Homo sapiens: one gene and its partners. The protein of the gene in region 3 interacts with the protein of the main gene of each other region in a biochemical or structural test. Each region holds a gene or a part of one and is shown on either strand. Other genes may lie near its edges. The genes, in order: NOP58, PRIMPOL and USP36.

Region 1 (8,690 bases), on a different chromosome or scaffold from region 3:
CACACCACTGCACTCCAGCCTGGGCAACAGAGTGAGACTCCATCTCAAAAAATAAATAAATACAAATACAAATAAATAAATAATTAGCCAGGCATGGTGGCTTGAGCCTGTAGTCCCAGCTACTCGGGAGGAGGTGGGAGGATCACTTGACCCAGGAGGCCAAGGCTGCAATGAGCCATGATCCTGCCACTGCACCCCAGCCTGGGTGACAGAGCAAGACCCTGCCTCAAAATAAATTTTAAATACATAAACATGAATTTGTATGTGTACATGGGTTATACATAAAATGTTTTCCTCACTGTAAATGGAAGTTTAAAAAAAACTTCAAGGCCAGGTGCAGTGGCTCACGCCTGTAATCCCAGCACTTTGGGAGGCTGAGGCGGGCAGATCACCTGAGGTCAGGAGTTCGAGACCAGCCTCAACATGGAGAAACCCTGTCACTACTAAACATACAAAATTAGCTGGGCGTGGTGGTGCATGCTGGTAATCCCAGCTACTCGGGAGGCTGAGGCAGGAGAATTGCTTGATCCTGGGAGGCAGAGGTTGTGGTGAGCCAAGATCGCGCCATTGCACTCCAGCCTGGGCAACAAGAGTGAAACTCCGTCTCAAAAAAAACAAAAAAACAAAAAACTTCAAAAAACTTCCTAAAGCATTCTCATCAAAGCATGAATTATATGCATCCAATATAATTTTTTTTTTTGAGACGGAGTTGTGCTCTTATTGCCCAGGCTGGAGTGCAATGGCACGATCTCAGCTCACCACAACCTCCGCCTCCCGGGTTCAAGCAATGCTCCCGCCTCAGCCTCCCAAGTAGCTGAGATTACAGGCGCACACCACCACGCCCAGCTAATTTTTCTATTTTTTTAGTAGAGACGGGGTTTCACCATGTTGGTTAGGCTGGTCTCAAACTCCTGACCTTGTGATCCGCCGGCCTCGGCCTCCCAAAGTGCTGGGATTACAGGCATGAGCCACCATGCCTGGCAACCAACATAATTTTATACCCTAGCATTTTGAAAGATTATGGGAAAGGAAACTAATAACTTTGAACCGTATGTCTACTTTTTTAGGAGATAAAATTCACCATATATCATATTAATTTTACATGTATCTTAATATTTGCCCTTTTAAAGTGTACAATTCACTTTTTAGTAGTGCATTTTCACAAAAATGTGCAGCCATCACTAGTTCCAGAACGTTTGTATGTCTTTTATACTCAGAAACGATCAATGTTAATTCCAATAATTACAAACTAATCAATGTCAACATATTCGAGCTTAACTAGTTATTTCTTTAGTACTAGGTTACATAAACCACAATTTAATCATTTTGAACAGTAACTTGCAGATAAATAGCACTGCAAACTCCAACGGAATACTCAAAGACATTTTCATGGAGGAGGACACTTTTCATTAATAGAAATCAGTAATTCATCGAGACACGGTTGAGTATTTTAGGACCCAGGTCTAGAAATCCGACCATTGATAAGCCAATTCCTTCCTACCATGGGAGACAACCAGTGCACTGTGCAGAGTTGCTCCTCTTCACATCCGGTACAGGACAGTATACTACGGCAATTAACGGTGAAATTCATCGATAGACACTTACAGACCACATTGGCTAAGAGAATTTGAAGCTATGCAGAACTCTACATGGTAATTTAGATAAGATTCCAAAAAGCTGGAGAAAAGTAAAATTGACATGTTTCGTAGCTCTAAAGGGGACTAAGGAGCTTACTTACAAGTTCCTTAAAACACTAATACGGCAATTGCAGATAACTCCAACTAAGGTAAAAACAAGCAAAACTGCCTTTTCGGTTTTAATGATTTTATTGGTTTTCTTAAAAATAACATTTGACGTATCAAATGCAAACTGCGTATTTTCAAATGTCAGAAGTGAAACATGGAGAACTCTGCACCCATCCAGACTTTCTTGCATCCACACCACAAATGGTTTTTTGGTTCATAGCTAAAATTGTATTACATTTATTTTTACCTAGCGTTTTTGCTTTCTACCAACATATATATATGTAGAATATACATAAAAACTTTATTTTTCATTGCTATATTCACAGACCTCAGAAGAGTTGCACCGCACAAGAAAAGGCACTCAATCTCACTCATTCTTCCTAACATCTCAACAGCATCTTGCGATACGAATGTCTTACCATTCAACCATTTCAGTGCTGACGAACTTGTCAAACTTTCCCCACGAAAACAACCAAACCTCAAACTGACATCACCAGCCCAGATGTTTTCCCCTAAGCTTCAAATCTGAAATACTGAACTGCCCGATCTACACAACTGCATTATCAGGTCTAATAGACAACGCAAGCTTCGCACAGCCCAAACCGGAAATCTTTAGTCCTTCCCCAAGAAACTTTCTTAACATCTTATTTAAACCAAAACCCCACATTCAATCTATTAGCCAGTCCTTCCTGTTCTACCTTCACAATTTCTATCGATATTTGTTTCTCTCCATACCAGGCAATTTCATCTTGTCCAAATGAATGCAAAAGTATTCTTGCTGCCGTTCTTATCTCCTCGAGTCTAATCTCCACACAGCAGAGTAACCGTATTAAGACAAATTAGCAGGTCATTCCTCTGCTTAAATCCTTTCGATTGGCCGAGCACGGTGGCTCACGCCTGTAATCCCAGCACTTTGGGAGGCCGAGGCAGGTGGATCGCTTGAGGTCAGGAGTTCAAGACCAGCCTGGCCAACATGGTGAAACCCCGTCTCTACTAAAAGCAAACAAACAAACAAAAACAACTAGCCAGGCGTGGTGGTGGATGGAGGCCTGTAATCCCAGCTACTCGGGAGGCCAAGGCAGGAGAATCGCTTGAACCCGGGAGACGGAGGTTGCAGTGAGCCAAGATTGCGCCACTGCACTCCAGCATGGGCAACAAGAGCGAAACTCCATCTCAAAAAAAAAAAAAATCTTTCGATCATTCCTCAAAACATCTAGAATAAAGTCCGAATTCCCTATAATCTGTTAAATTCTAACACGCCTCCTGCCCACCCCTTCAACGGGAGGAAATAAAATCCTCTAATGCAGAACGGGTCTCCCCAAACGGCGGGGCCACGTGTTACACGTAACATGGCTCTCAGGTGTAAAGGCCTTCTCCCTCCTCCCAGAGCCCGGGCTATAACAGGCACCCACGCTACTCTGAGTAGTTCCGTGCTTAAGTCTTTCCCTCTCCTCGTCTGTCCAGCATCCGCCTTCCCCCTTTAACGGCTCGCTCTCCCACCTACCTTAAAGATGGCGTAACCCACAGACGTTTCAAACAGCACCAACATGGTGAGGCCGGGTCAGGGCGCCGCACGGCCTGCCAGAAGCTGTAGAGTCAGTTCAAAAACACCGACTACGCGGCCTCAAAAGGCCTCCTAGGCCGCGGCGGGCAAAGCACAAATGCGCTCGCCGTCCCGCAAAGAATCAGAACACGCTGCCTAAACCCTCCACGCTGTACTGGAACTAGGACGCACGAACGCGCTACTCCTTCTCTGAGGATTCTGGGATAGCAACGTCACTTCCGACAGAAGACTGCCGCAGAGATTGCCGTCACTTCCAGAATGTTCCCGCCACAGCGGGCTGGGGCGGGCCGAGAAAGTTTGTATCGCGGGATCTAGGGCCTGAACGGAGCCTTTGCGCCTTTTTTTCTTTTTTCTTTTTTTCTTTTTTGGAGACGGAGTCTCGCTCTGTAACCCAGGCTGGAGTGCAGTGGTGTGATCTCGGCTTACTGCAACCTCCGCCTCCCGGGTTCAAGAAATTCTCCTAGCCGGGCGCAGTGGCTCACGCCTGTAATCCCAGCACTTTGGGAGGCCGAGGCGGGCGGATCACAAGGTCAGGAGATCGATCGAGACCATCCTGGCTAACACGGTGAAACTCCGTCTCTACTAAAAATACAAAAAATTAGCCGGGTGTGGTTGCAGGCGCCTGTAGTCCCAGCTACTCGGGAGGCTGAGGCAGGAGAATGGCCTGAACCCAGGGGGCGGAGCTTGCAGTGAACCAAGATCCTGCCACTGCACTCCAGCCTGGGCGACAGAGCGAGACTCCGTCTCAAAAAAAAAAAAAAAAAAAGAAATTCTCCTGCCTCAGCCTCCCCAGTAGCTGGGACTAGAGGCACACACCACCACGCCCAGCTAATTTTTGTATTTTTAGTAGAGATGGGGTTTCAGCATGTTGGCCAGGATAGTCTCGATCTCTTGACCTCGTGATACGCCCGCCTCGGCCTCCCAAAGTGCTGGGATTACAGGCGTGACCCACTAGGCCCGGCCTTTTTTTTTTTTTTTTTTTTTTTTTTTTTTTTTTTTGAGACAGTCTGGCTGTTGCCCAAGCTGGAGTGCAGTGGCACTATCACGGCTCACTGCAACCTCCAACTCCCAGGCTCAAGCGATCCTCCCACTTCACCCTCCGGAGCAGCTGGGACTACAGGCCTGTGCCACCACACCCAGCTAATTTTTTGTAGAGACAGGGTTTCACGATGTTGCCCAGGCTGGTCTCGGACTCTTGACCTCAAGGGATCCTCCCACCTCGGCCTCCCAAAGTGCTGGGATTACAGGCGTGAGCCACCGCGCCCCGCCACCGCTAGAGATTTAAAGGGGAAAAACTTCACGATATTATTTTGTTAACCCTCTATGAATTATATGTTCACTTTGAGAGAAACGAGGAGCTGTTTCGGTGCCAGTCTGCCTCAGGCATCTAGAATTTGAAATGCCAGCTAGTGCCATTAGACTTTATCCCCTTTCAAGCCCTGCCTTGAGGCGAAGGCCTCAGAATGACACCATTACTGTCACTATATTTGTGAGCATTCCTGGCCGTTCCCTTCTGTCTGGCCAAATGAATTATTAGCACAGTTTTCTTTCAATAAGCCTCTCCTATTTTTGCTGCATTTGTTAAAATGACCCCAGGGTATGAATTTAGAATGTCTTTTTTTTTTTCTTTTTCTTCTTTGTTTTTTTTGAGACGGAGTTTCACTCTTGTTGCCTAGGCTGGAGTGCAGTGGTATGATCTCTGCTTACTGCAACCTCTGCCTCCCGGGTTCAAGCAATTCTCCTGCCTCAGCCTCCCGAGTAGCTGGGATTACAGGCATGTACCACCACGCCTGGCTAATTTTGTATTTTTAGTAGAGATGGGGTTCCTCCATGATGGTCAGGCTTGTCTCGAACTCCTGACCTCAGGTGATCCACCCACCTCGGCTTCCCAAAGTGCTGGGATTACAGGCATGAGCCACTGTGCGGGGCTGAATTTAGACTGTCTTCTTGATTTAGTGTTACTTGCTTTTCTGGAAGCCTTTCAGTCTCAGGGACTGGGATTAAATACCCCAGTTGTTTCACAAGTCTGTCTTCCAACAGGGGTAAAATTTCCTTACTCACTTCCCAGGCCCTATATGCAGATTGTTCCTAATCATTAAATTGCAACCTGCTGGGAGAATTGCTTGAACCCAGGAGGCGGAGGGTGCAGTGAGCCGAGGTGGCACTACTGCACTCCAGCCTAGGCGACACAGCGAGACTCCATCTAAAAAAAAAAATTGCAACCTGCTCAAGATTGTGGAACATTAAATAGGTAGCAACTCTGCAACCTGAGATTAAGAGGAAAGAAAATCCTGGGTTGAATAACAGAAAGTCACAGGACAGAGGAATCTAGGGTGAATTCTTTTTTTTTTTTTTTTTTTGAAACGGAGTCTCAGTCTGTCGCCAGGGCTGGAGCGCAGTGTCGCGATCTCAGTCACGATCTCAGCTCACTGAAGCCTCTGCCTCTTGGGCTCAAGTGATTCTCCTGCCTCAGCCTCCCCAGTAGCTGGGATTACAGACACACGCCACCATGCCCAACTAGTTTTTGTATTTTTAGTAGAGACGGGGTTTCCCCATGTTGGCCAGGCTGGTCTTGAACTCCTGACCTCAGGTGATCCGCCTGCCTCAGCCCCCCGAAGTGCTGGGATTACAGGCATGAGCTACCACGCCCGGCCTAGGGTGAATTCAAGAGCATAATTGGCCGAGTGTATGGTTCACGCCTGCTATGATCTCACCATTACACTCCAGCCTGGGCTACTAAGCAAGACCCTGTCTCAAAAAAGAAAAAAAGCATGGTTGATTATAGTTACAGCTGTAATCCAGTGTGGTCAGGGAGACAAGAGAGACGAAAATTACCTGATTGGGAGAGGGGTATGCGTGGGTGGGTGAGATGTTAGAAACACCATGTCTGTTTATAGTGTTATTTAACTGCACAGTATTTTTCTGTCTAGTCTCCTTAGCAGAAGTGACATCTGCTAGAGAATTGAGTCTACTTTACACATATTTGTGTCTGTATAGGATGTTATGTTGTGCTACTCATGAAATAGAATCTAATTAATTCTTAAAAATTTAATGAATGAATGTCTGCAGGAAGTAAAAATTCTTTTCTTTACGTGTAAAGCCTTAAATCCTATTCCCAAAATGAAATGAAACCACTTATTCAATGAGAAATCTCTTTGCCATGGTATGTCCTAGAATTTGTCCTTGCACGTTACCATTTACATAGTCACCTCCATATGATGCTTTAATCAGGAGTTCAGAGCTGACTCTGATTTTGGGTTTGTAACTTGACCAAATAAAGTAATTGGAGATTTTCTTTCTTTCTTTTTTTTTTTTTTGAGATGCAGTCTTGCTCTGCTGCCCAGGCTGGAGTGTAGTGGCATGATCTTGGCTCACTGCAACCTCTGTCTCTTGGGTTCAAGCAATTTTCTGCCTCTGCCTCCTGGGTAGCTGGGATTATAGGCCCCTGCCACCACACCCTGCTAATTTTTGTATTTTTAGTAGAGATGGGGTTTCACCATGTTGGCCAGGCTGGTCTTGAACTCCTGACCTCATGATCCACCCACCTCGGCCTCCCAAAGTGCTGGGATTACAGGCATGAGCCACTGCTCCCGGCCAGTAATTGGAGATTTTCTCTTGCAAGGGAGAAGTAAGAGTCTTAGTACTTTGTTAAAGTACTGAGTGAAGGGGAGATAGCACAAAGAAATATAAGAAGGAGAATATAGGAGAGTACAGATGATAGAAGGGCTTACAATTTTTTTTTTTTTTTGAGACAGAGTTTCGCTCTTGTTGCCCAGGCTGGAGTGCAATGGCATGATCTCAGCTCACCGCAACCCCTGCTTCCCGGGTTCAAGCGATTCTTCTGCCTTAGCCTTCCGAGTAGCTGGGATTACAGGTATGTGCCACCACGCCCAGCTAATTTTGTATTTTTAGTAGAGACAGGGTTTCTCCATGTTGGTCAGGCTGGTCTCGAACTCCTGGCCTCAGATGATCTGCCCACCTTGGCCTCCCACAGTGCTGGGATTACAGGTGTGAACAACTGCGCCCGGCCAGGGCTTACAATTTTACTGGTGGCTAACATGGTGAAATAACAAGGATGAGAAACATGGTTCGTCTGTCCTCTCTGTACACCCCAACTCCACCCCTGTTCCAACTAGAATATAAACTCTATAAAAGTTAGTTGCAAAATCTGCAAGTACTAGGCTAGTATCTGGCACGTAGTAGAGATTCCATAAACATGACTAGTAACTAAGTAAATGAATGGATGAATGGAATGAGTGAATGGTGGGATAATTTCAAGGTGCTAGTAGAGCCTCCAGGGACTTTTTGGAACCTAATGAGATTAGCCAAAGACACCATTTTGGTCAGACACCTTCCATGTGCCTGGTAACAAGAAGGGGATGTTCTGGGTGGTGAATATCTTTTATGTATTCAACAAATATTTGAGTGTCTACTCTGTGCCAGGCATTCTTTTTTTTTTTTTTTTTTTGAGATGGAGTCTCACTCTGTTGCCCAGGCTGGAGTGCAATGGTAGGATTTCAGCACTCACTGCAACCTCCACCTCCCGGGTTCAGGAATTCTCCTGCCTTAGCCTCCTGAGTAGCTGGGACTATACAGGTGCGCACTTCCACACCCGGCTAATTTTTGCATTTTTAGTAGAGACGGGGTTTCACCATGTTGGTCAGGCTGGTCTCAAACTCCTGACCTCGTGATCCACCCACCTCGGCCTCCCAAAGTGCTGGATTACAGGCGTGAGCCACTGCACCCAGCCTGTGCCAGGCATTCTTTTTTTTTTTTTTTTTTTTGAGATGGAGTTTCGCTCTTGTTGCCCAGGCTGGAGTGCAATGGCGCGATCTCCGGCTCACCGCAACCTCTGCCTCCTGGGTTCAATCAATTCTCCTGCGTCAGCCTCCTGAGAGCTGGGATTACAGGCCGCCACACCGAGCTAATTTTTTATTTTTAGTAGAGACGGGGTTTCTCCATGTTGATCAGGGTGGTCTCGAACTCCCTACCTCAGGTGATCCGCCCACCTCAGCCTCCCAAAGTGCTGGGATTACAGGGATTACCACGCCCGCCTGTGCCAGGCATTCTTACAGGCACTAGAGACACAGCAGTGAAAGAAACATGTAAAAATCTCTCTACTTATTATTACTCTTGTTTTCCTTCTCAGAGAAGTTAAGTAATGCAAAATCATACAATCTTCCTCATAGTTTCCTTTAGGAGTACCCAGAAGATGGACATGGAAATTGTTTCTATCACACAATCACTGACCTGCCGCGTACAGTGCTGTATTTTCTTTTTTTTCTTTTTAGACGGGCTGGGGTGCAATGGTGTGATCTTGGCTCACTGGAACTTCCACCTCCCGGATTCAGGCAATTCTCCCGCCTCAGCCTCCAGAGTAG
Region 2 (7,864 bases), on a different chromosome or scaffold from region 3:
TTTTTCTATGCGTATTAACTTACCAAAAAATCATTATTACATGGTGATCATAACACCTTGTATTATGTCTCCATAATCTATTCTGTTTTTTAACCGTGGAATATATCATACATACAAAAGTATAGATAACACACTTTTTTTTATTTTCTGAGATGGAATCTCACTCCGTTGCCCAGGCTGGAGTGCAGTGGCATGATCTCAGCTCACTGCAACCTCCGCTTCCTTGATTCAAGTGATTCTCCTGCCTTAGCCTCTCAAGTAGCTGGGATTACAAGTGTGTACTACCATGCCCGGTTAATTTTTGTAATTTTAGTAGAGACGGAGTTTCACTATGTTGGCTGGGCTGGTCTCAAACTCCTGACCTCAAGTGATCTGCCCGCCTTGGCCTCCCAAAGTGCTGGGATTACAGGTGTGAGCCACCGCACCCAGCCGATAACACACTTGTATACGCACATTTTAAAGACTAAAGTGACCACCTGTTGTATCTGCCGCCCACCTTAACAACCAGAAGCTGATCAAACCTCAGAAGCACCTGTGGGCCCAACCCCAATTTCCTTCTCTCCCTGGCCCTCAGAGATGGTAGCCAGTATCCCGATTTTGTGTTCATCTTTTCCTCGCTTTTATGATTTCTCCCATATACGTTCATATCTCTAAACAATATACTGTTTTCTTTTTCTTTTCTTTTGTTTTTTGAGACAGAGTTTTGCTCTTGTCGCCCAGGCTGGGGTGCAATCGCACGATCTCGGCTCACTGCAACCTCTGTCTCCCGGGTTCAAGCAATTCTCCGGCCTCAGCCTCCCGAGTAGCTGGGATTACAGGCATGCGCCACCATGCCCAGCTAATTTTTTGTATTTTTAGTAGAGACGGGGTTTCTGCATGTTGGTCTGGCTGGTCTCGAACTCCCGACCTCAGGTGATCTGCCTGCCTTGGCTTCCCAAAGTGCTGGGATTACAGGCATGAGCCACCGTGCCCGGCCATAAACAATATAGTGTTTTCTTTTGCTTGTTTTCGAATCGCATCCTCTCCCTTGCCTTGCGGTAGCATATCTGTGATTTTCACCCACGTTGCAGTATGTAGCTGTTGCTTATTTGTGTCACTATTGTGCAGCATGCCATGTGTATAAATATAAATAGGCCACAGTTTATCTGTTTTCCCACAGTGGACATTTGGGTTGCTATTATAAACCGTGAAGGTGGGAACCGTGTTGTACATATCACCTAGTATACATGTGCTAGAGTTTCTCAAAGTGGACTTGCTGTGTCGTGGAATATGCACATAATTAATTTTACTAGATCATAAATTGTTTTCCCAAATGGGTGTGCCAGTTTATAGTCCTGCCAGCAGTGTTTTGAGATTTTTCTACTGTTCCATATTCTCACCAACACTTTAGTATTGTTAGGATTAAAAAATTGGTTTTGCTCATCTGGCAGATGTAAAACAATATTGTAGTTTTCTTGGGAATTTCCCTGATTACTAATGAAGTTGAGGATGGATAATCAAATTACATCCACACAGATCAGAAATCTTGCCCAGTGTCAAGCTTTACTAATAATGTAGGAATACAAGGAATGAAAAGGCACAAATGGGGCAGAGTGAGGCCCGGGGCATCTGGCCCGGCTCCCCTGGCCCTTCCTGCTCTTTCTGACTCAGGAGGAAACCCGAGGCAGGCGTGAGCAATCCATGCACACAGCAGGAAGCACCGAGGTTGTGAATCACCTGCATTTTACACTCAAGTTGCACAGCTGGGTGACATTTCCGGAAAGCATGCCTCATAATGCATTGATTCTAGACTTTTTACCAAATGCAGTTCTAAAGTCAGAAACGTCCTACGAAGAGCATTCTGTAGGTAAGGACTGAACTCCTAGCGTTTGGTCCAGACGTTCCCCGATTTTCTTGGTTCATGGTTCCCCTGGTGTCTTTGTTTCTTCACATTTTCTCTGAGGCTGACAGAAATACCCGAGCTCTGGTAATGAATTTCAAACAACTTGGTAAGTGTTTATGTCCGAACAGTTTAGTAGCAGTTTGAATAATAGTATCCATAAACTAAAAAAAAAAGCCACTTTTCATTCTTAAATACAATTACTTATTAATGGGATGTATACTCTCCATTTTTTCATTTTTTTGAGACAGGGTCTCGCCCTGTCGCCCAGGCTTGAGTGCAGTGTGATGGCCCAGGCTTGAGGACAGAGTGCAGGAGCTCACTGCAGCCTTGATCTCCTGGGCTTGAGCGATCTTCCTGCTTCAGCCTCTCACGTAGTTTAGACTACAGGTGTGCCACCATGGCTGGTTAATTTTTAAATTTTTTGTAGGTGGGATCTCCCTCTCTTGCCCAGGTTGGCCTTGAACTCCAGCCTTCAAGCTATCCTCCCACCTCAGCCTCCCAAAATGCTGGAATTACAGGTGTGAACCACCTCACCAGGCCTATGTATGCACTCTTAAACCCTGGAATCAGATTAGACCCCACCCTCCCCAACTCATACCTTGTTCTCCATTGATGTTAATGGTGCTTTTTTTTTTTTTTTTTTTTTTTTGAGATGGAGTCTTGCTCTGTCACCCAGGCTGAAGTGCAGTGGTGCAATCTCGGCTCACTGCAACCTCTGCCTCCTGGCTTCAAGCAATTCTCCTGCCTCAGCCCCCCGAGTAGCTGGGATTACAGGTGCCCACCGCCACGCCTGGCTAATTTTTGTTGTATTTTTATTAGAGATGCGGTTTCACCATGTTGGCCAGGCTGGTCTCGAACTCCTGACCTTGTGATCCACCCACCTCGGCCTCCCAAAGTGCTGGGATTACAGGCGCGAGCCACCATGCCCGGCCTGATGTTAATGGTGCTTTCTATTACAACCACACCCCAAAGCCCAGCTCTACAAAGATGGAGCATGAATGAAAGGAATGAAGTCACATGTGAACTGCAGGCAAGGAGTTTTCAGATTGCTCAAGAAATGTCAAGTATCACTGTGTTTTCTAGCAGTATTTCAATATCCTGCAGTGCCCGGGGCACCTTCCTGTACAGTTTGGGAGCCACAGCATTATTAGCTCATTAATTGGGAGGCCTGTTACTAGAATGTTTAAGGGAAGATTAGACTAAGTCACCTGCCTTTTTTTGCTCCTGGGTGCAGGTCCCTTACCACCTCCCCATCCCACACCTCACCTACTGCCATGGGGAGTGTTAACCATCTTATTTCCTTTTCTGTAAAATGTGGGAACATTTTCAACTATTTAATCAAATCTTTAAGAATTTTAGTGATTATAGGATTGTTTAGGTTTTCTGTTGCTTTTTAAGTTTGCTTAGTTTATTTTTATGTAGTACTTTATTTTACAAAAACTTTCAAAGTTACTGGCAAAAGTTGTTCACAATATTGTTTTCTTAAAAACATATGATGCATTTAATTTCTAATAACATTTGTGTCTTTGCCTTATTTTTAAATCAATTTTACCCTAATTTCATTTTCTTCAAATGTAGGCCTCGTTGATTCTTTTTACTTTTGTCTCTTTATGACTGCCTGCCTTTTATTTATTTATTTACTTATTTATTTATTTAGAGACAGAGTCTCACACTGTCACCCGGGCTGGAGAGCAGTGGCACCAGCTTGGCTCACTGCAACCTCCGCCTCCCAGGTTCAAGTGATTCTCCTGCCTCAGCCTCCCAAGTAGCTGGGATTACAGGTGCCCCCCACCACGCCCAGCTAATTTTTGTATTTTCAGTATAGACGGGGTTTCACTATGTTGGCCAGGCTGGTCTCTTTATTCAGTTCGTTGTTTTCCACGTTAGTCACTTAATCCATGTATCTTTAGCTATTCTTCTTTCATAACACAAGATTTTAAGACTATAAATTACCCTCTAAAGGTGACTTTAGCTGCATTTCACATATTTTAATATGTACACTTCCAGTCCACTCAGGTCTAAGCGTTTTCTAATTTCCACTATTTTTCCTTGAACCATTGGTTGTTTCAAGTTGTTCTTAATTTCCAAATTATGGATTTCTATTAGTTTTATTTCTAAAATTTGCTTTATGCTCAGATGTGTTCTGTATGAAGTGATGATTTTAAATTTGATAAAATTCACTTTATAGCTAGCATGGAATTGGTTTTATAAAGAACTGCTTCATATTTACCTATTAGATCAAACTTCTTAATTGCTTTTTGTCATTCATTTTTTCTGTATCCTTATTGGACCTTTTTTGTGGTTATCCTTTGATCTATAAATTACTGAGAGTATGTTTTTTAAAAACCTTGATTTATGGTAGATTTGTTTATCATTGTGGTCCTGTCCATTTTTGCTCACATATTTTGCAGCTGTATTATTTGGTGAGTACAGGTTGAGAATTGTTACATCTTCCTGGGGGAACTTTCATCAGTATCTACTTTTTGCCCTGCAGTTCATTTTGTGTGATTTTTGGCAACCACCGTTTTGATTGGTATGTATCTATCCTTATCCTTTTACTTTTTAATTTTTCTCCATCTTTAAGTCTTAGGCATATTTCTTGGAACAGCATGCAGCTGGATTTTGTTTTCTACCCAGTCTTGGTATTAATACTTTTTTTTTTTTTTTAAACATAAAGGATTCTGGTTGATCTGAAAAATGAAGTTTGGTATCAAAAATGTCATGACCCTGTATGTAAAGCAGAAAACTTCAAATCTGACTGTAAGTTACTAATTTTTACATTTACCACAAAGTAAAAATTAGATAACTGTAATATGTAATAGTTTTGCTATCTTTCTGATTCAGGTTTCCCATTACCTGCTGAAGTATGTCTCCTGTTTCTTTTCAAAGAGGTAAGTACAGATTTTAGTGTCTTTCTCCTTACCAGGGAGTTCTTGGTACAATAGTATACCTGAGCCATGAGTAGTGTCCAAATAGCATTGAAACCCATTTGCTACCTTGTTTTCACTTATGACTGTATTATAGGAATATATTGTAGTGATTTTCCCATTTCAGCACATATCTGATAATACAAACCTTTTTTTTTTTTTTTTACTGCTGCTTGAGGTGTACAGTTTAATCAGTCCCAGACATTTAAGAAGTTTCCCATATTTTGCTTTTCAAAGTAACAAAATACCCATCTTTGTATTTCTTTGAACATCTGTATCTGTAGGATGAATTTCTAGAAGTAGAATTGTGTCAAAGGGCATATTCAGTTTTAATTTTGGTAGGTATTACCAGGTTGTCAAACCAACATTTTTCTCTTAAAGATTTTTTATTTACCCAAATAATTAACGTGCATTGTAGAATGAATTGAAAATACATAAAATTAGGTCAGGCACAGTGGCTCAGGCCTGTAATCCCAGCACTTTGAGAGGCTGAGGCAGGCAGATCACTTGAGGTCATGAGTTTGAGACCGGCCTGGCCAACATGGAGAAACCCCATCTCTACTAAAAACACAAAAATTAGCCAGGTGTGGTGGCCTATGCCTATAATCCCAGCTACTCAGGAGGCTGAGGCAGGAGAATCCCTTGAACCTGGGAGGTGGAGGTTGCAGTGAGCTGATATCACGCCATTACACTCCAGCCTGGGAGACAGAGCGACTCTGCCTCAAAAAAAAAAAAAAAAAAAAAAGAAAGAAAATACATAAAATTAGGAAATACACAAGAAGCAAAGAGGAAAGAATCTTCCTTACTCATTTGACCAGAAATAAATGATACACGTTTTGGCACGTACCTTCGAGAATTTATGTATGCTCATTTTCTTTTTTTTTGAAGTGATAGCACACATACTATTTCAGTTTTTTTTCTAAAGTATCACAAATATTTTTAGTACCTATTATCAAATTGCTCTCCATAAAAAGTATAGGATATTAGACCTCCACAGATAATTTATGAGAGCACCTATTACCTCACACTTTGCCAGCAGTGCTTGTTTACCTCGAATCACTACCAATCTGGTAGGCAAAATGCAGTACCTCAGTTGTTTTAATTTGCATCTCTGTAATGAACTTTTTTCGGATTCACTATTAGTATTTCTATAATGAAGTGCCTGTACCTGTCCTCTGTCCATTTTTCTGTAACTTTTTTGCAGTAATTAAGTACTGTTTTTGACGTATTTCACTTTTAAATTGTAGTTTGTGTTTTGTTTTTTGTCACATCTGTCAGCTTTCTCCTCTATAGTGTTAATAGAATAAAAGAAGTTACCTGCTACAAGCAGAACAGGTGATGGGGTTTATATTCTAGAAAACTCAGTCTTAACACGTCTCTCGAAAAAACTCCATATGTTTGAAATGGTGGAAATTCCATTCTTGGTCTGCAAGAACTGGACATAAAATAACTGATAGCCAGATTCTCTGGCAAAATACCAGGTTAAAATGTGTTTTGAAATAACCAAGAACAAAGTAAATTTTAAAAAATAAACTGTCTCCAAGAGGAGGAGGATTGCATCGCCCTTGTTAGTCTGGATTGTGATTTAGATATTCGTGGTTGCAGTGGATTTTTAAGCTACTTTTTCCGCTTATCTAGTAACACCTCAAAAATGCCAAGTTGAAAGTACCATTGGTCAGTATTACCACTACTTGGACATAACTTTTTAAAGTAAGATATATAATGAACACCCATGTAGCTGTCACTTAGTTTTCAGTTAACATTTTGCCTCTCCTGCTTCATCTTGTTTTTTAAAACAAATATTTTAAATTACCAGTTGGTGTTATTTATACCTGCTTTTCTATTGCACTGATATTTCATTGGTCACTTGATTTTAAATTTACTATAAAGGCCTAACCTACAGAAATGTACAAGAATAAGGAACTCTGCTGTCTGTCCTCTATTGAGATCTGCCATTTGTTAACACTTGGCCACATTGGTTTTCTCCCTCTACTGTATACATACGCATTATTTTTGATGACTCTCTTAAACTGCAGACATCAAAACCCTTCATCTAATATTTAAGCACGTAGCGGAAAGAATAAGACATTCTGTAGCTTTTTTAATGACAGGGGGGTATCATGTTGCCCGGGCTGGTCTCAAACTCCTGGCCTCAAGCAGTCCTCCCGTCTCAGCCTCCCCAGTAGCTGGGATTACAGGCACGTGCCACTGCACTGAATAAGGACATTCTTTACATAAATAATGTATTGGGCGGATCAACTAAATGTCTATACTGAAGACATTCTATGGTAAAATAATTGATACAATACTATTATGTAATATACAATCCAGTCATATTTTGGCAACTGTTTTTAATCTTTTTTCAATCCATGTTTACGATTTGCTAAATACTTTAAAATTTAAAGCATGGGTACTAAGTCCATTGTCAAGATAGCAAATTTATCTTCTGATTTGTCTTCAGCTGGACTGTCCACTTGTTAAAAAATTAAATCCACCCTTGCTCTTCCGTCGGGGAGTATTGAAAAGTATGTGCACAGAACTGTAGGTAATTTCAAATTTGGAGTTTCAAGTGTGTCTGAGCTTCAGTGCAGCAACGTTTGAATCAGTGCACTCATTCCCACGGTGAGATATCGGAGACAGCATTCCTCCTGCATATTCACTTTAGTATCTGTCACTTAATACCTTACTTCAACATAGAGTATAAGGTTAAATCACATATCCTGAGTAAATATTTTCCTATCCCACTCTCTATCCCTTCACCACTGAAATAAAGGAAGAAGAGTTTACAACAGATGAAGCAGATGAAACTAGGAGCAATGAAACCCAGAATCCTCATAAACCATCACCTAGCAGGCTGTCAACAGGTGCATCTGCTGATGCTGTCTGGGATAATGGCATTGATGATGCTTATTTTTTAGAAGCTACTGAAGATGCTGAATTAGCTGAAGCTGCAGAGAACAGTCTTCTCAGTTATAACAGTGAAGTGGATGAAATTCCTGATGAACTAATTATAGAAGTATTACAAGAGTAACTAATTCACTATGAACACTTTTGT
Region 3 (7,864 bases):
AACATGGAGAAGGTGCCACCCCAGCTGTGACCCAGTGCACGCAGGTCCCTGCAACATTCTTCCCCCCACACGCATTAGCGGACGCTCCACACGCAGCCACGGAGACAGTAGAGGGAAAACCAGTCGCGTTTCCCATCCTAACTGAGCCAAGCCTGTTGACGCCAATGTGCAGGCTACTGTGACCTGATGAAACGGCAGATCCTGGCCTGGCCCGGGACACCTGATCCAGCATCCTTGAACGGCCCTGCACATACAATGATGGACACTACTGTCCACACCACTGTCGCTTCAAGGATCAATCCACTGGTATTTATCAGAGGAGATATTTTTTCTTTTTTCTTTTTTTTTAGACAGGGTTTAGCTGTCACCCAGGCTGTAGTGCAGTGACGCGATCTCAGCTCACTGCAACCTCCACCTCCTGGGCTCAAACCATCCTCCCACCTCAGCCTCCTGAGTAGCTGGGACTATAGGTGCATGCCACCATGCCCAACCAATTTTTGTTTTTGGTAGAGAAAGGGCTTTTCCATATTGCCTAGGCTGGTCTCAAACTCCTGGGTTGAAGTGATCCACCCGCCTCAGCCTCCCAAAGTGCTAGGATTACAGGTGTGAGCCACCACACCCAGCCAGAGGAGACATCTGATCACAAATCCACATTTTAGAAAACCACGCAAGCAGACTACGTTTCCAGACCATACCTACTTGGGGGTAGATTCTGTGGTTTTGCTTTGTTTCTCGTCAGAGGTAGACAGATGCCACTTTGCTCCTGCCCTTACCTGTGCCGAAGTGGGTCCTGGTGCAGGCCGCCTTCTTCACCAAGACCTTCTGCTCCTTTCCTCCTCCGCTTCCTGCTGCTCGCGTGGTGGCCGTCCGTAACACATCCCACCTGCTGGCCATTCACCTGTGGCTGTGTGCCATCTTCCTGCCGTCTGACAGCGGGCAGCTGTGCCTGGCCCTCCCTCCTGTACATGGGGCTCCCAGGCTGTCTCTGTGTCTGCCCCTCCTGCAGGGCGCTGGCAGCTGTGTCCTCCGGGCGCTTCTTCTTCTTCCTCTTCCTCTTCCCGTGGGGAGCCGCAGTGGCCTCCCTGATGTGCTGTGGGAGGCGCGTCTCTGAGCCCAGCCTCTGCGGCTCTCCCACAAAGGTCTTTTTCCTCTTCTCAGAGGGGCTCTGGGGGGGCTCACTGGCCTCTGGCAACTGGTGTGGAAGAGACACAAGGTCCTCGTTGACCTGAGGCAGCGCCGTCGAGATGGAGGAGCAGCTCCGTGGTTCTGACGTCCCTGGGGGCTTGGGGGTACTGGACAGCAATGTGGGGTGGGGGCTGAAGGGGGGTTGCAGGCGGCTGGATGATTGGGGAGCAGGTGACACAGCCCTGTGGGGACAGCCAGGAAACAGGGAGAGGATGTTCTGAAAGACCCAGCAGAGCTGTTCCTTCTGTCTACCCTCACTCCCCTCCCTTTCACCTAAAAATCTGAAAAGGCTTTTACCCTGTAGTTTTCAGATACACATTAAGTTACATGTATGTTTGAAAGAAAGCTAACAATTAATTCAACATCTATTTAAATGCAAAGTTGGCCAGGTACAGTGGCTCATGCCTATAATTCCAGCACTTTGGGAAGCCAAGGTGGCTGGATCACCTGAGGTCAGAAGTTTGAGACCAGCCTAGCCAACATGGTGAAACCCCATCTCTACTAAAAATACAAAATTAGCCGGGCGTGGTGGCACACGCCTGTAATCTCAGCTAGTCAGGAGACTGAGGCAGGAGAATCGCTTGAACCTGGGAGGTGGAGGTTGCAGTGAGCCGAATCGCGCCACTGCACTCCAGCCTGGGCGACAAAGCAAGACTCCGTCTCAAAAAAAAAAAAAACCAAAAAAACAAAAACAAAAACAAAAAAAAAAAAACAAAGTTACCTAGGTGGTGGGTTGATAGGTGCAGCAAACCACCATGGCACCTCTGTAACAAACCTTTACATCCTGCACATGTACCCTGGAACTTAAAATAACTGATCCCTGAGATTTAAAAAAAAAAAAAAAAAAAAAAAAAAAAGCAAGCCAACACGTGATTTTAAAAGTCAAAAAAAAAATTTTTTTTTTTTTAAAAGGCAAAGTTAATAAGAATTGTTCCATGCCTTAGTTTCTTGTCACCAAGCAATTCAAGTATTTTTGCGAGCTCTAATGTAAAAACATCTTTAATACAAATGTGTTAAGGGAGGAAACCTTCACGAAACAATAAATGGTAAGGAAAAAAAAGATCCCGTGAGGATTTATTTTCCAACCTCCGAAAGTCTCAGGGTGTTCCCGGGCAGGAAATGAGCCTCATAAGGAAAGCAAGTGTTGAGCTGGCCTAATGACACCTCCACATTACCGTCATTAGGACGCTGAAACCGGGACACAGATGCGTAGAGCAGAATCATGAGCAAGGCGTGTCCGGGACAGGATCTAGTGCCGAACCCAGTGAGGCTCCCTCTTGCCAGCTATGTGTCTCTAGGAAAATTAACTTCCCACTCTGAACCACCATGTTCTCATTTGTCAATGAGCTGGGACCACAAAGCCCACCTCCCAGGGTTCCTGCAGAAAACAGGACCCCCGTCATCATCTAAACAAACTATAAGGGCCATGCCAGCTGCACGATGTTTGATTACTCTAAGTGTCTTCTGGAATCTTTTCCAAAAAAGCTTATAAGGCAAGAAACGAAAAACACCCAAACACTTAAGGCCCTCCCACGTACACAAATCTTATGCTAGGTATAGGGCAGAGGTGTGCTTGTGTGTGTATATGTGAGAGGAGAGTAAGGCAGAGGCTGTGGGCGACGCACAGTCATACCTCGCCCTCATGTAGCACTGGAGATTCTAGAACTAGAACCCAGCGCCGAGGCCACCAGTACAGTCCCCGCAGGCCGCCTCATGACTCACCCCATCTTTCACTGCTTCCGTCCCCACTCCCAGCGGCTTCCAGACAGCCATTTACCAGTTACTCTCAACTTCCTGCCACTCGAGGCACCTAAGAGACGCAGGCAGCCCCTGCGGACCAGGGCCCACATGCACAGGGAAGGGGCTGCATCTCTGGCAGGTGTCTGCAGAGGAACCCGAGAGCCCTGAGACAGTTCTTAACCTGCATGACGCTAGCAGGCAAGACGTCCCACAAAAAACGCTCGGGACTCCGAGCTCACTCAAGCCTCTCGCCAAGGCCTCACTTCGCCTTTCTCTTCGACTGGGAAGTACTGTCATGGGGCTGGTAGGGATACAGGACAGGTCAGTCCCCAGCACACCACATCACCACAAGGATGTCGCAGACAGACCACCAACAAAGACAGAACTAAGACATCAGGACTGCAGAGGCCGAACTGCCTTCACCACCCAAAGCTCCTTTACCACAGGGGAACACAGAAGAGGGGGATCTTGGTCAGTGACGCCCCCCTGTACCTCCTGGCTGCCCCAATGCTTTGTCTGTCCTGTGAGGTTGGCGATTCGTCCAACTCCTCACCAGCCAAGCACACGCAACCACAGGGAGAACCAGTTGGCACCCAGAAGATCCCGGCCCAAAGCTTACCTGGCTCTATGGACGGGCCAAGTGGAGGCAACGACGGGGTGAGAGGTTTTCATGGGGTGGGTGAGGTCGGAGGATGGTGAGGGGGGAGGTGGACGGAGGTCATTGCCGGTCGCCCTCCACAGGGTGCTGGCCTGCAGTTATCGACATAAATAAAAACTTGGTGGTCTAAAAAAGGTTTCCGTGAGTGAAGAGGGAAAACAAAAGTAACAAAAAATGAAAATAAAAACAAAAGAGCCCAGAAAAAAAGATGAGGAGACAGAAGAAGACAAAAAGGGGAGGTGAGGGGCAGGGGAATGGTAGAAGAAGAACCAGAAAAGTATTTTTGGTTAGAAACAAAAAAAAGGAAGAAAATTTAAACAAAAATCTCAGCACAACAATCACATCCACGTGCCGTGGCTGCCCAAGCTTCCTGCTGCAGAGGTGCCGGGCACCCCACTGGGGCTCTGCGCTTCCTGCCCGCCCCACCCCTGCTAGGGACACGTGCTGGTGGGGCCCACCCTCCCTCGGGTTCAGTCAGGATCTTCCACCTACTGTGAAAACAGGGAACTGCTACCTTGCCCAAACCTCCATGAGTCACATGAGCATCACCAGATCAGGGCTCTCTCAACACCCCATACTGCCTTCACCCCAAGATAGCCGTTCTTTAATTGCAAATGGCTGGGAACGACTAAAAGACACTTTGTTCCTCTAACATGAGGGAGGCCAAAGCCCCCGGACAATGTTCTCACTCCCTTCAAACCACAACCAAGCAACTCTTGGAGCTCTCCTGATACACAGCAGCGGCGAGACCCCCACACACCCACCTTCTTGGCAGAAAGGGCCAGTTTTTTGGCTGGTGGAGGAGACATGGTGCTTGCAGGCTCAGTGGTGGTGTTGCTCAGGACAGGGGACTTCAGCTTCACCGTCTTAGAATCTGCTCCACTTGGCGGCGTTTTGGAGTGGCCAGCGGTGGAACAGTTCGTTTCCTGAGAATCGCAGAGATGGGCCGCTCCACTCCTGGGGGTCTGGGGGGCCTTGGTGGAGTCGCTGCTGGCCGAGTGCTCTGGGCTGGAGCTGCTGGAGCCCCTCCTGTCGAGGCCAGCGCTCTCGTCGTTCCCCTTCAGCCCATGCCCGTTGGCAGTGGCTGTAGCCAGGAGCTTAGGTGAGGTAGAGAGGACAACATCCCTGCTGTCCCAGGAGCCCTGCCTTTGGCTCCCAGATCTGCTGCTATTCGAGTTGCTGGTCCCAGGCAGCCCCTGAGCAGTTCTGGGGGAAAAGTGCTGTGGAGGAGCTGGCTTCTTCACCTTCTTTCCAGGGTCGTCTAGGATGGTTGGCATGTGTGTGGGTGTCTGGGAGAGTTTGGGGGAAGGGGACCCCGAGGGCAGCTTTGGAGGAATGCAGCCGTTCTGGGACTTCAGGCCCAGGGTGGAGCCATTCCTGGATATGGGCACACCAATCTCTTCAGTGGTGTGCGGCTTCTTCATCGTCCCAGAGTCTTGTCGCTAAGGAGACCAAAGCAGAAAACACAACTGAGGAAGCGAGAAGTCTCAGCTGGGCCACATCTTCTTAAGGCCACAGTGAATCTTAGTAGCAGGCATGGCCTCTGATTAGCATGCTCAAGATAAATTATTTATCTGGACTCTTGGTAAAGACACTGTGGCTTCTCTGAACAATTCTGGTGTTCTGTGACATCCCAAGAACAGGGACCACAGCCGTGTACCACCACACCTGGCTAATTTCTGTATTTTTGACAGAGATGGGGTTTCACCATGTTGGCCAGGCTGGTCTCAAACTTCTGGCCTCGAGCAGTCCACCTGCCTCAGCCTCCAGAAGTGTTGGGATTACAGGTGTGAGCCATAGCACCTGGCCTGAATACATATCTTTATGGCCACCTTTACTATAAAACCAGTACATTTTCATCAAGATTTGGGAAGAGAAAAAAGTATAAAGGAAGAAATTTAGCAAAGTTCCATCACCTAAACATAACCATGCATTAACATTCTAGTGCTTTCTTTTTTCAATCTTTTCTTCCAAATGGTTCTGGCCTGAAGAGTTGCATCCCAGTTTTATCTTAAAGCTATTATCTCAAGCATTTTTATGGGCGATAACTCTCAATAAATATCTTTAAGACAGAGCCTTGCTCTGTTGCCCAGGCTGGAGTGCAGTGGCATGATGATGTCATCATAACTCACTGCAGCCTCAACCTTCTGGGCTCAAGAGATCCTCCCACTTCAGCTGCCCAACTGGCTAGGACTATAGGAGTAGACCACCACACCCGAATAATTATTACTATTTTGTAGAGATGGGGATCTTGCTATGTTGCCCCGGCTAGCCTTGAATTCCTGAGCTCAAGCAATCCTCCCACCCTGGCCTCTCAAAGTGCTGGGATTACAGGCCTGAGCAACTGCACCCTGCCTGTCGGCCTGTCTTTGACATTTTACTATATATACTATGTACTACTGATACACATTAACTGTATGGTTAATTTATATAAGCTATATTGTCTCCAACTGTTGAAATTAAAAATACTGTACAGTATATGTGTGTGTATCCTTTACCCTTCAGAGCACTTATTACAACTGCATAGAAATAACTTATTATTCTGTATTTAGATGCTGAATGTCAGCCTTCCCCTGCTTGACCAAGAGGCTGTACCCGTTATCTCTCTCGTTCCCACTGCAGCCCTCACCAGCAACTCAAGGGTCTGGTATAGAGTCGGTGCTTAAAAAATATTTGTTGAGCTTTTCCTGTACTTAGTACTCCATGCTAATTTTCTGGAAATGGAATTACAAGGCTAATTTTCTGGAAATGAAATTACAGATTTCATTTTCATGAAATCTGATGCAAAATGCCAAACTGCTTTTACTATACTCCAGCCACATCTATTTTTCAAAACATTTGCTAATTTGACACTCGTTTGGGCTATTACCACTTTAACATTCATATTCTCTGCACATGCACTAAAGTGATCTTCATTTGAATGAGATCTTTTGTTTACAAATGTTAACCTTTTGTTGACAATATTTTACAAGGTTTTATTGCTTCATTTGTTTGTAGTAAATTATGTACAAAAATGTAAATCTTAGTCAATTCATAATTCTTCTACATTTTATCCTTCAACTTTAAGCATACAAAGTCTTCTTCCCTTCCCAGAGGTTAAGAATTTACCTCTATTTTCTTCCAAGTTTTGTTTTGTTCCCTACATTCTATTCTTTGTTAATACTGTTTTCTAAAAGGAATTCATCTTTCCACTGCACCGCAAAGCCGTTTCACTGGCTGAACATTTCCATACACACTAGAACTTGCACCATGTCATTTAGAGTAAAACGGCTCGTCTGCTTGCAGTGTATTTGGAAAATCACGTTTGTAATGAAAATGCTCATGGTCAGTGAAGCGCCCCTGCAGGTGTGCCTGACACAGGGACTCTCCTTGAGCCAATCTCCACCCTCGGGCATCACTCTGCCCATGGAGTTCCTGTGGCAAGTGGGGCTTCCTTTGTTTTTCTGGGGTTTTTTGAGACAGGGTCTCATTCTGTTGTCCAGGCTGGAGCGCAGTGGCACAATGATAGCTCAATGCAGCCTTGTGTTTAAGTGATCCTCCTGCCTCAACCTCCAAACAGCTGGGACAACAGACGTGCACCACCACACCTGGCTAATTTTTGCACTTTTTTTGGAGATGGGGTTTTGGAGATGGGGGTCTTTCTATGTTGCCCAGGCTGCTTCCTTTTTTTGAGATGGAGTCCCGCTCTGTCACCCAGGCTGGAGTGCAGTGGCACAATCTCAGCTCACTGCAACCTCCACCTCCCGGGTTCAAGCGATTCTCCTACCTCGGCCTCTCGAATAGCTGGGATTACAGGCGCACGCCACCATGCCCAGCTAACTTTTGTATTTTTAGTAGAGACAGGGTCTCACCATATTGGCAAGCTGGTCTCAAACTCCTGACCTCAAATGGTCCACCCACCTCAGCCTCCCAAAGTGCCCGGCCCCCCTCTTCTTTTTTTTGTAGACAAGGTCTCACTCTGTCACCTTGCCTGGAATTCACCAGCGTGATCATGGCTCACTGCATACAGCCTCAACCTCCCGGGTTCAAGTGATCCTCCCCCAACAGCTTACTGAATATTCTCTGTGCTGATGGGATCTATGTTGCCCAGGCTACTTTTTAAATTTGTTTTGAGACAGGGTCTTGCTCTGTTGCCCAGGCTGGTGTGGAGTGGTATGATCATGACTCACTCCAGCCTTAATCTCCCTGGCTCAAGTGATCCTCCCACCTCAGCCTCCTGAGTAGCTGGGAATACAGGCACGTGCCATTAAACCTGGCTAGCTTTTGCATTTTTAGTAGAGA

The links.
Region 1: of the proteins of USP36 (region 3) and NOP58, one has a biochemical effect on the other in vitro, tested with the Homo sapiens proteins (one study listed by BioGRID).
Region 2: of the proteins of USP36 (region 3) and PRIMPOL, one has a biochemical effect on the other in vitro, tested with the Homo sapiens proteins (one study listed by BioGRID).

The regions. Positions count from the first base shown.
Region 1 is NC_000002.12:202,260,546-202,269,235, reverse strand, and holds the start of NOP58 (nucleolar protein 58), read right to left. Parts: upstream 3,474-8,690; 5' UTR 3,295-3,473; coding exon 3,250-3,294; intron 1-3,249. UniProt on the Homo sapiens protein: Required for the biogenesis of box C/D snoRNAs such as U3, U8 and U14 snoRNAs. Part of the small subunit (SSU) processome, first precursor of the small eukaryotic ribosomal subunit.
Region 2 is NC_000004.12:184,686,940-184,694,803, forward strand, and holds part of PRIMPOL (DNA-directed primase/polymerase protein), read left to right. Parts: intron 1-4,376; coding exon of another isoform or gene 4,377-4,415; intron 4,416-4,559; coding exon 4,560-4,642; intron 4,643-4,726; coding exon 4,727-4,773; intron 4,774-7,145; exon of another isoform or gene 7,146-7,270; coding exon of another isoform or gene 7,271-7,354; exon of another isoform or gene 7,355-7,582; coding exon 7,583-7,840; 3' UTR 7,841-7,864. UniProt on the Homo sapiens protein: DNA primase and DNA polymerase required to tolerate replication-stalling lesions by bypassing them.
Region 3 is NC_000017.11:78,802,612-78,810,475, forward strand, and holds part of USP36 (ubiquitin carboxyl-terminal hydrolase 36), read right to left. Parts: intron 5,026-7,864; coding exon 4,348-5,025; intron 3,710-4,347; coding exon of another isoform or gene 3,676-3,709; coding exon 3,545-3,675; intron 1,368-3,544; coding exon 774-1,367; intron 245-773; coding exon of another isoform or gene 1-244. UniProt on the Homo sapiens protein: Deubiquitinase essential for the regulation of nucleolar structure and function. Required for cell and organism viability.